Regions from separate parts of the Homo sapiens genome. Here regions 1, 2 and 4 are each linked to region 3. The links come from fine-mapping of genetic effects on gene expression. A gene starts in region 3. Each other region holds a variant in brackets. All regions are shown on one strand. Distances are between the middles of the regions. Region 1 overlaps CASTOR2 (cytosolic arginine sensor for mTORC1 subunit 2). Region 2 has its middle 38 kb from the start of RCC1L. Region 3 holds the start of CASTOR2 (cytosolic arginine sensor for mTORC1 subunit 2). Region 4 overlaps GTF2I (general transcription factor IIi).

Region 1 (2,683 bases), 56 kb after region 3:
CACTGGGGATGACTGCGGCCACATCCGCTTCTTCTCCTTCTCCCTCATCGAGGGCTACATCTCCCTGGTGATGGACGTGCAGACGCAGCAGAGGTGAGCCAGGCCCTGGGGTGGACGTTCAACCCAGGGTGGGCCCCAGGGTCTGGGGGGACTATGTGATGGCACATCACCCACTTTGTCTTTTATTTGTTGTTGTTTTTTTTTGATACGGGGTCTCGCTCTGTCGCCCAGGCTGGGGTGCAGTGGTGCGATCTCGGCTCAAGGCAACCTCCACCTCTCAGGTTCAAGCAATTCTCCTGCCTCAGCTGGGACTACAGGCATGTGCCACCATGCCCAGCTAATTTTTGTATTTTTAGTAAAGACAGGGTTTTGCCATGTTGGTGAGGCTGGTCTCAAGCTCCTGACCTCAGGCAATCCGCCCGCCTCAGGCGTGATTTTTTTTTTTTTTTTTTTAGACGGAGTCTCGCTCTGTCGCCCAGGCTGGAGTGCAGTGGCACTATCTCGGCTCACTGCAAGCTCCACCTCCCGGGTTCATGCCATTCTCCTGCCTCAGCCTCCCAAGTAGCTGGGACTACAGGCGCCGCCACCACGCCTGGCTAATTTTTTGTATTTTTAGTAGAGACCAGGTTTCACCATGTTAGCCAAGATGGTCTGGATCTCCTGACCTTGTGATCTGCCCGCCCCGGCCTCCCAAAGTGCTGGGATTACTGGCATGAGCCACCGCAACCAGCCTGATTTTTTTTATTTTTATTTTTGTTGAGACAGGATCTCTCTCTGTCACCCATGCTGGAGTGCAGTGGTGCAGTCTTGGCTCACTGCCACCTCTGCCTCCCAGGTTCAAGTGATCCACATGTCTCAGCCTCCTGAATAGTTGGGACTACAGGTGCCTGCCACCACACCTGGCTAATTTTTGTATTTTTATTTTATTTTTTTTTAATATTTATTTACTTTTTGAGACAGGGTCTCACTCTGTTGCCCAGGCTGGAGTGCAGTGGCGCGATCTCAGCTCACTGCAACCTCCACCTCCCAGGTTCAAGTGATTCTCCTGCCTCAGCCTCCCGAGTAGCTGGAACTACAGGCGCACACCACCATACCCTGTTTATTTTTGTATTTTTTGTAGAGACAGGGTTTTGCCATGTTGGCCAGGCTGCTCGTGAACTCCTGACCTCAAGTGATTCACCCACTTTGGCCTCCCAAAGTGCTGGGATTACCGGCGTGAGCCACCGCACCTGGCCAATTTTTGTATTTTTCGTAGAGATGGGGCTTCGCCATGCTGACCAGGCTGGTCTCCAACTCCTGACTGCATGTGATCTGCCAGTCTCGGCCTCCCAAAGTGCTGGGATTACGGGTGTGAGCCACCACGCCCTGCCACTTTGTCTCTAATAAACCCTCACCATAGCACTTCATCATAAGTAAGCTGGTCCCCCAGCTCAGAGAG[G/A]TGCAGGGGTTGTCCGAGGTCCACTGTGGGGTGGTGGCAAAGTGGGGATTTGAACCGCAGCCCCGGTGCTATTTCTCCCTCAGCTTGTGCTCTGGACCTGGGAAGAGGTGTCTAGACCAGCCTTAGCAAGGGTTTGGGGAGGGGCTTGTTACAAAGCCCAGCCTGACATCACCCTCCCCATCCGCCTCCCCTCAAGACGAGGAGGCCGCCGGGCGAATGGGTCCAGGGTGTCTGGAAGGGATTGTTTTTGGGGGGCCCTGAGGTCTGCCCAACCCTGCCTGGCCAGCCCCATGCCTCGCTCTGGCTGGTGCACCAGCACACCAAGGAGGGAGTGCAATTCACATCAGCCTCGGGGATTCTTCTCTCGCTCCTTTTGAAGGTTTCCTAGTAACTTGCTGTTCACAAGCGCATCCGGAGAGCTCTGGAAGATGGTCCGGATTGGAGGACAGCCCCTGGGGTTTGGTGAGTCCTGGGGGGATTACATGGGGAATTGAGGGAGCTGGCATTGCTGAGCCCATTCACATACGTTGTCCGCAGTGACTCGGCCCCTGCTGGGGGGTACAGATGGGGAGACTGAGGCTTGGGGAGCCTGAAATTTCTGTTGCTCACTGGTGTGTGGCAGCTGTACACAGGCCTCTTGGGGAAGTGCGGAGCAGGCTTCAATCGGAGTGCTTTTATTTTGCCCCCTCTTGAAATTTAATATGTTGCTTATTATTAGAAAATTAAGCAGCTGGGCGCGGTGGCTCGTGCTTGTAATCCCAGCACTTTGGGAGGCCGAGGTGGAAAGATCCATTGAGCCCAGGAGTTCTGTACCAGCCTGGGAAACATAGCGAGGCCCTGTCTCTACCAAAATTTTTAAAATTAGCTGGGCATGGTGGCTGGCGCCTGTAATCCCAGCTACTCAGGAGGCTGAGGCAGGAGGATTACTTGAGCCTAAGAGTTCAAGGCTACAGTGAGCCATGATCATGCCATTGTACTCCAACCTGGGTGACAGAGCAAATCTTTGCCTCTAAAAATAAAAAAAGAGGCTGGGCGAGTTAGCTCGTGCCTGTAATCCCAGGTCTTTGGGAGGCCGATGCAGGTGGATCACCTGAGGTCAGGAGTACCAGCCTGGCCAATATGACGAAACCCCATGTCTACTAACAATACAAAAAATTGGCCAGGCACAGTGGCGTGCGCCTGTAATCCCAGCTACTCAGGAGGCTGAGATGGGAGAATCGCTTGAACCCAGGAAGCAGAGGTTGC
Region 2 (2,683 bases), 71 kb after region 3:
ACTATGGGTGGGGCCCATTTCTACGTACTTGGTCATTATAAGCTCTGATGACTACTGGGCACCAAGAGGGTTCCCTAATTTATTTATTTACATTTATGTATTTATTTAGAGATGGAGTCTCGCTCTGTCACCCAGGCTGGAGTGCAGTGGAGCAATCCAAGCTCACTGCAGCCCCCAACTCCCAGTTTCAAGTGATTCTCGTGCCTCAGCCTCCCCAGTAGCTAGGACTATAGGCACACACTGCCACACCCAGCTAATTTTTATATTTTTAGTAGAGATGGGGTTTTGCCATATTGGCCAGGCTGGTCTCGAACTCATGACCTCAAGTGATCCGCCCGCCTCGGCCTCCCAAAGTACTGGGATTACAGGCATGAGCCACCGCGCCCGGCCTGGGTCCCTACTTTAGCAGCAGAAACACAAGAAAAGCAGGCAGAAAGCCTGCCATGAGCCTGCAAGGAACAGCCCAAGTTGTATGCAGGGAAATAAATATTCAGTATCTTGGAATTTACAGAGTGTGTTGTAGATTAAATGACGCAAATGTCAAAACTCAAAAAAATTAAATGAATGAGCAGCAACTCCACTCCTAGGTATACATCCATGAAAATTGAAAACTTATGTTCACACAAAAACATTCCAGAAACAAAACGCTGGGCCAATGTGAAACTTATACATGAATGTTTTGACATTATTTATAATGGTCAAAAAGTGAAACCAACCCAAATGTCCAGCAACTGATGAATAAATATGCAAAATGTTATATTATATATTAAAAAAAAAAAGCCTGGGCGAGGTGGCTCATGCCTGTAATCCCAACACTTTGGAAGGCTGAGGCAAGAGAATCATTTGAGCCCAGGAGTTCAATACCACCCTGGGCAACACAGTGAGGTCCCCCCATCTCTACAAAAAATTTTAAAAATTAGCCGGGCATGGCTTGCGTGCCTGTAATCCCAGCCACTTAGGAGGCTGAGACAGGAGGATTGCTTGAGCTCAGGAGTTCAAGGCCGCAAGGAGCTATGATCGCACCACTGTACTCCAGCCTGGGCAACAGAGCAAGACCGTCTCAAAAACTAAAAGTTTCCAGATGATTCTATGGTATAGTGTTGTACAAGCAGGGTTGAGAATGAGAACCCCAGGTTTGAGGGGTAGAATCTGCTCCAAGGAATCCCAAAGTCACT[C/CTT]TTTTTTTTTTTTTTTTTTTGAGATGGAGTTTTGCTCGTTTCCCAAGCTGGAGTGCAATGGTGTAATCTTGGCTCACTGCAACCTCTGCCTCCCGGGTTCAAGCAATTCTCCTGCCTCAGCCTCCCGGGTAGCTGGGATTACAGGCATGTGCCACCATGCCCGGCTAATTTTGTATTTTTAGTAGAGACGGGGTTTCTCCATGTCCATGTTGGTCAGGCTGGTCTCGAACTCCCGACCTCAGGTGACCTGCCCGCTTAGCCTCCCAAAGTGCTGAGATTTACAGGCGTGAGCCACCACACCCTGCCCAAAGTCCCTCTTATGAACATCATTGCCTTGGCTGCTCTGCAGGGCAGGTGGCAGACCAGCCACAAGACACACACCCTTGAAAGCAGGCATCCTTCTCACCACCCCATCTGCAGCTCCTGGCATACAGTACGTGCTGAGGAGCACGTGGTTTATCAATCATCTTCTTCATCTTCAATATTTTTCTCCCGGGGCCAGGTGCGGTAGCTCACGCCTGTAATCCCAGCACTTTGGGAGGCCGAGGTGGGCGGATTACATGAAGCCAGGAGTTTGAGACCAGCCTGGCCAACATGGTGAAACCCCGTCTCTACTAAAAATATTAAGACAAAAATTAGCTGGAGTTGGTGGTGCACGTCTGTAGTCCCAGCTATTCGGGAGGCTGAGGCAGGAGAATCACTTGAACCACCCAAAAGGCAGAGCTTGCAGTGAGCTGAGATCGCACCACTGCATTCCAGCCTTGGTGACAGAGTGAGACTCTGTCTCAAAAATATATATATGTAATTTTCCTCCTGGAATGCACATCAACTGCTGGAGTTGTGGAACCAGCTACCACCGTTAGCCTGAGCCTATCCAGTCTGAGGCCCCAAGGAGGGAACTCAAACGGGGCATCCTTCCGACTGGCGTGACTTCATGTGCTCCACTCTGGCCTCCTGGGATTCAGCTGCCACTTGCTACCAGAGCAAGAGTAAGATGTTTCTCCGGAAAAACAAGTGCCTCCTGGTTGGAGGTGACAACAGTATCTAGGTTTATCCATTTATTTATTTACGTATTTATTTATTTATTGAGACAGAGTCTCAATCTGTCACCCCGGCTGGAGTGCCGTGGTGTGATCTCGACTCACTGCAAACTCTGCCTCCCTGGTTCAAGCGATTCTCCTGCCTCAGCCTCCCAAGCAGCTGGGATTACAGGCATGTGCCAACATACCCAGCTAATTTTTGTATTTTTAAAAAGTAGAGACGGTGTTTCACCATGTTGGCCAAGCTGGTCTTGAACTCCTGACCTCAGGTGATCCGTCCGCCTCGGCCTCCCAAAGTGCTGGGATTACAGGCGTGAGCTACCACCACCCCTGGCCATGGTTTATATCTTTTTTTTTTTTTTTTTGGGAGACGGAGTCTCGGTCTGTCTCCCAGGCTGGAGTGCAGTGGCTCAATCTTGGCTCACTGCAACCTCCGCTTCCTGGATTCCAGCAATTCTCCTGCCTCAG
Region 3 (2,683 bases):
AGAAAATAAAGTGGGAGGGGGATATGCATGCTCTAAGATCTATCTACCACAGATTACAGGCTTTTCACCCTTTTGTGGAAATGACAAAACCTAGTATGTTCCTACCTAACAGAGGAGGGCTGAGGGAAGGTGAGGGAGCACAACTGCAATTTTCCCCTGAAAGAGAGTTCTCAGCCTGCCCTGGCAGATAGATCTCACCCATCGCGTCCCCAGATTACTCTGCCAAAGGTGGAAGCACCAATCACTTTAACCCAGAACATTTCAAAACCAGACAGCCATGAAGGAGGAACCTCTGTGGTCCCGGCGCGTGGGCCCTGGGGTTGGAAGTGCCTCAGACGCACTTTACATTTTCCCCGAATTCACCCTTCGCAGTCCCCATCACCCCCTCTCCAGTGGGATAAATGGCCACCTCATTAGCTCTGCACACATGACCCTCCCGACCTGACTCCTGGTGACTATGCCTGCCTTATCTCTTTTCTCTCCTCCCTCACATTTTCCGCTGCAACAAAGCCAAACACAGCACCGTGGGGGCTTTCACGCTTCTGTGCCCTAGGACACGCTGTTCCTGCAGCCTGGAAGGCCTCTGTCCTCCATCCGCGCGCCCTCACTCTCTTGCTACGAACTCCCATTCATCCTTCAAAACCCAGCCTGAGTGTCCCCTCCCCCGGGTCACCCCCTTTGACCTGTCAATCCCCTCCCTCCGGGTCCCCAGCAAGCTTTTCGGTTTGGCTTCTCTGCACTCTCATGACCGATTGCCCTACATCTTGGCGCTCCCAGACTCGGGCCTTCTCCAGCACCGGAGTCGTCTGGTTTGCTCGCTTTACACTCCAAGCACCTAGTACCGAGCCTGACTGGGTGCCAGAGGGCGCGCCTAGGCTCAGGCTGGCTCCACCCGCCCCGTGCCTCCCCTCGGCCTTCCCCTTAGTCCTGAGGGTGCCCGCGCTCCTGCATTTCCCGTGCACCGGGCTGCCGGTAGCTCCGGCCGCCCAGCCCCCGCGGCAGCAACAGCAGCAACAGCACCGGGGGAGCCCCCCCCCAGGCGGACTACAAGTCCCGGCAGGCCGCGCGCGGGCCGCGCATGCGCAGCGGGGACCGGCGTTTGAGTGGCAAGTTGTTTGTTACAGCGAACACCAGCTGCTCCCCGCGCCGGGCGCCGCGCGCCGCTGCTCCGCCGCTCGGCCCCTCGGCTGCTGCTCCGCCGGCGCTGCCTCCCTCGCCCCGCGGCTCCCCCTTGCAACTTGGCGGGCCTCCTCCCTTTTGTCCGGCCCGGCCCGGCCGCCGCCGCCCCCCGCGCCCGGCGCCGAGCTCCCGGGTCTCCGGGCCGGCTGTCGGTGCCGGCAGGGCGCGGAGGGGGCGGGGGCCGCGGCTCGTCCCCCCGCGGATGAGCCGCCGCGGACGGGGCGCGGGCGGACGATGGAACTCCACATCCTGGAGCACCGGCTGCAAGTTGCCAGCGTCGCCAAGGAGAGTATCCCGCTGTTCACCTACGGCCTGATCAAACTTGCCTTCCTGTCCTCCAAGACCAGGTAAGCGCGCGGGGACGCGGCGCCGGCCGGGGACAGACAAAGGGGGCGCACCCCGGGCCGCTGTCCTCGCCGCCGCGCCTCGGAAAACAACTTCGGGCCCCGGGAGCGCCCCCGCCCCGCCCCCGCCGCCGCTTCGCTCGCGTCTGACAAAGCCGGAGCCGCAGGGTCCTGGCTCCCGGACCCCTCGCAACCTTCCACCCCCCGGTGCGCCACCCCCCACCTCTGTCGTCCCCCCCATCTCCCACCCCCTCCCCCATCGCAGCCCCCTCCCCGAAATCCGGGGGGCTGGGGCGGCTGCAGTGACGGATCCGTGAATGGATGAAGGAACGAACGAATGAATGAATGAAAAACAGGTGTGGGGACGAGGCCGTGGAAAAAACAAACGCCCCCATCCCCCCATCCCTCGGTTGGGCCGGCCCCGTCGCCACGGCGGGGGGAGGGATTCCGCTGAGCGCGGTTACCCAGAGCAGAAAATCATAAAATCATTAGTGGGTGTTTATCTCAAGGTGCCTACGAGGCTTGCTGCGGACGGCCTGGAATTGCGGGGGGGAAACGGGGGGTGGGCGAGGGCCAGGGAGGGGCTGCAGAGGACGTGATTCTTTCTCCTTGGGGTCCTGGAAAGGGGGTGGGGGGGTGTTTTGCCCAACCGTAGAAGGGGAGGAGCAGGCATGTTTATGCATCTGCCTTGAGGCTGGGCTTGGATGCTGCAGGGGGAAAAATAGTTGAAGGCCTTGGAAGGTAAAAGAGGGAATCACACACACACACACACACACACACACACACACTCTCTCTCTCTCTCTCTCTCTCTCTCTCTCACTTGGATTTTCCCTATGCCAGGTAAGGGTTTGACATTGTGAGCCCCGGTGGGTGCTTGCATTAGGGTTTTGTTGTTGTTGTTTAAGGAGCCTGAGCCGAGGGGAGTGTGAGTGCCAGCTAGCTGCTGTAACTTAAGTCTCATTTGCCCACCATTGTGACTGTTAAAAAGGAATGATAAAGTTGTTACTGGTTGGTTTTTCGCGGTTTGGGGCGGTGGTGGCTCTCCCTCACTGCAAAATGAATGAATACTTTTCGGGTCAAGGTTAGCGTGAAAATGACAGCCCCCTTAGGCTGCCCCCTTTGGCACTGAGCTCTAGGGACACAGGGAAATAATTCCAGCC
Region 4 (2,683 bases), 280 kb before region 3:
GATCAGAAGTTCGAGACCAGCCTGGCCAACATGGCAAAATCCTGTCTCTACTAAAAATACAAAAATTAGTCAGACGTGGTGGTGCACGCCTGTAATCCCAGCTACTCGGGAGGCTGAGGCAGGAGAATCACTTGAACCCAGGAGGTGGAGGTTGCAGTGAGTTGAGATTGTGTTACTGCACTCCAACCTGGGCGATAAGTGAGACTCCGTCTCAAAAAAAAAAAAAAAGTAATGGGAGGATGTGATAGTTCTCTGCCTCTGGGATCACAGGACAGGAATGTGGTACGCATGAAGGTGCATGTGGCTGTCAGGTCTGCCTTAGGGAGGACACCCTTCTGCTTAAGCTGAGAGAATTCTAATGACTTATTTTGTGGTTTTGGATCTAGCTATATGTGGAGCCAGTATAACCTTTAGACTTAATTAATTAAATGAAGCAATAAAAGTTCTCTTTTGTACTTGATCTTGTTTGAATTGGGAATTGGTAACCTCGCAATCTAAAGTAGTTCTGGCTAATTCATAAATTGTTCTTGAGAATAAAGGATATGGAAGGTATGGTTCCCAGAGTTGGTGAGGTTAGTTATTCTTACTGAAAACAACCAACACTGTTGTAAAATTATAAAACAAAACTTTTGTGAAAACACCAGAAAGTTGAAAAGTAGAGAAAATTTGAAGGGCTGGGTTATGGGAACTCAATTGACAGAAGTGAGAATTACTCTTGTCCTGAAGGCAAACATTTCACCACTTGACCTTGAGTTTTAAAAGCTTTGTGGGGTGAGAGACTCAGAATAGTCTGCATCCTTACTTGTGGCCTGGGTTAACTTCTACTGGGTGGGCCAAGGAACCAAGTCTCGAACTTGGATTAGAGTGATTCTAGGCAGGTGTTGTCTCTTGACACCTGGAGGAAGCTGCCTTCACCCTAGGCTTAAGATTATAAGTAATTTTTTCACGTAAAATAACTAACTCACTAAGATAATTAGGCATAGAAGGGAATAAGAACCATGCATAAGGGTAAGAACCACTGGGAACAACAGAAATAGTCCTGCAAAAACTTGAGATTTGGAATTATCAGAGACTATAAAATAACTGCCCCATTACCAAAGAAATATGACAATCTTGAAATTCCTTAGAGAGTAGGAAACTATAAAATATGACTTAGCAGTAACTAGAAATCATAGAAATGAAAATTACAAACAAAATTAAAAACCGGATAGGTGTTTTAACAACAGAATAAAAAGATGAAGAAGGAGTTAGTGAAATGGAAGGTAAGCCAGAAGAAATAATTGTTTAGTATGGAGAAGAAAACGTAAAAAAAGGTAAGAAGCTAAAAGGATAAAGTGATGACTAACATACATTAATGTGAGTCCCAGTAGGATAGGAGATAGAGAATGGGGCAGAATCTAAAGAGACAATAGCTTAGAGTTTTCCACATCGAAGGATACCATTTCATAGTTAAGCCCATGAATGACAGACATATGTTTAATAAAAATAAAATCTACACCTAGAATACACAGTGAAACTGTAGAAAACATCTTAGACAAAGAAAACCTCTTAAAAACAGCAGGAGTAGGAATGGGAATCACCTAAAAAGAG[A/G]CCGTAGATTACTTCTCAATAGCGACAGTGGAAGCCAAAATATAATGACACCAACAGATAATGAAATAACCTTAGTGTGCTGAAAGAATATAATTGTCAACCTAGGTTTCTATTCCAGCGAAAATACCTTTCAAGAAAAATTTTTTAGCAAACAAAAACAGTTTGTCACCAGAGGACAGCAGGAACACAAAAGAATGAGCAAATTATGTCATAAATACGTGGTTACATCTAAAGGAAAATTAAATTAAGCAAAAATAGTGTTGCATCTAAAAATACAGAATTAGGCCGGGTGCGGTGGCTCACGCCTGTAATCTCAGCACTTTGGGAGGCTGAAGCGGGCAGATCACCTGAGGTCAGGAGCTCAAGACCAGCCTGCCCAATGTGGTGAAACCCCATCTCTACTAAAAATACAAAAATTACCCGGGTGTGGTGGCGGGCGCCTGTCATCCCAGCTACTCGGGAGGCAGAGGCAGGAGAATTACTCGCACCCAGGAGCTGGAGATTTCAGTGAGCCAGGATCGTGCCACTGCACTCCAGCCGGGGCAACAGAGCGAGACTCCTTCCCCCCACCAAAGAAAAAAAAAACTTAAAAACTCGTACCTAGTTGCATTCCTTATGAGCACAGAGCAAAATGTCCTCATTTTACCTGGTTTAATTTTTTTTTTCTTCCACGGCCTCTTTTACTGGGAGACCTCTGAGTTTTGATGTGTCATGACAGATAGGAGAGGTCATATCCTTGTGATTTGTGGTTCATTGCTGGTGACATCAGAAAGTAAAGTCAACCAGGAAAAGACTCCATGGGCCTGGCTCAGGTGGCTTCTGGAGCACCACCTCCATCAAGGAGCTTTTCCTGGGGTCCATGTGTAGTCCATGTTGCCTGCTCTCCCACCCAGGGTTGCTGTGCTTATTATACAAGATGGCCAATAAAGCATGACATATATTCAATAAATGTTCATTTCTTTTTCCAACCCTTCTTATTTTAAGTTGAGGGTATTCATAAAAGGGATTGAGCATTTCCATTTATGGACGAGGCAACTGAGTACAGCCCCCAGGGGCACGCAGCGAGATGGCTGTCTGCTGAACCCATACACCA

Evidence for each region. PIP is the estimated chance that this variant, and not a neighbour inherited with it, causes the effect.
Region 1: its variant is the best candidate, but not a certain one, in a credible set for the expression of CASTOR2 in tibial nerve (GTEx, PIP 0.83).
Region 2: its variant is the best candidate, but not a certain one, in a credible set for the expression of CASTOR2 in whole blood (INTERVAL, PIP 0.66).
Region 4: its variant is the best candidate, but not a certain one, in a credible set for the expression of CASTOR2 in whole blood (INTERVAL, PIP 0.52).

What each region holds. Positions count from the first base shown.
Region 1 is chr7:75,020,057-75,022,739 of GRCh38, forward strand. CASTOR2 (cytosolic arginine sensor for mTORC1 subunit 2) reads left to right here. Exons shown (of 9, transcript NM_001145064.3): 6 at 1-93; 7 at 1,818-1,900. Among named protein-coding and RNA genes, the nearest start is that of RCC1L, 52 kb to the right of the region's middle. The variant G/A (reference allele first, on the strand shown) is at 1,439.
Region 2 is chr7:75,034,941-75,037,623 of GRCh38, forward strand. It overlaps a transcript of RCC1L not described here. Among named protein-coding and RNA genes, the nearest start is that of RCC1L, 38 kb to the right of the region's middle. The variant C/CTT (reference allele first, on the strand shown) is at 1,176.
Region 3 is chr7:74,963,573-74,966,255 of GRCh38, forward strand. CASTOR2 (cytosolic arginine sensor for mTORC1 subunit 2) reads left to right here and starts at 1,133. Exons shown (of 9, transcript NM_001145064.3): 1 at 1,133-1,526. The coding sequence starts at 1,414. RefSeq lists a silencer at 871-980.
Region 4 is chr7:74,681,698-74,684,380 of GRCh38, forward strand. All of the region lies in intron 1 of GTF2I (general transcription factor IIi), which reads left to right. Among named protein-coding and RNA genes, the nearest start is that of GTF2I, 25 kb to the left of the region's middle. The variant A/G (reference allele first, on the strand shown) is at 1,591.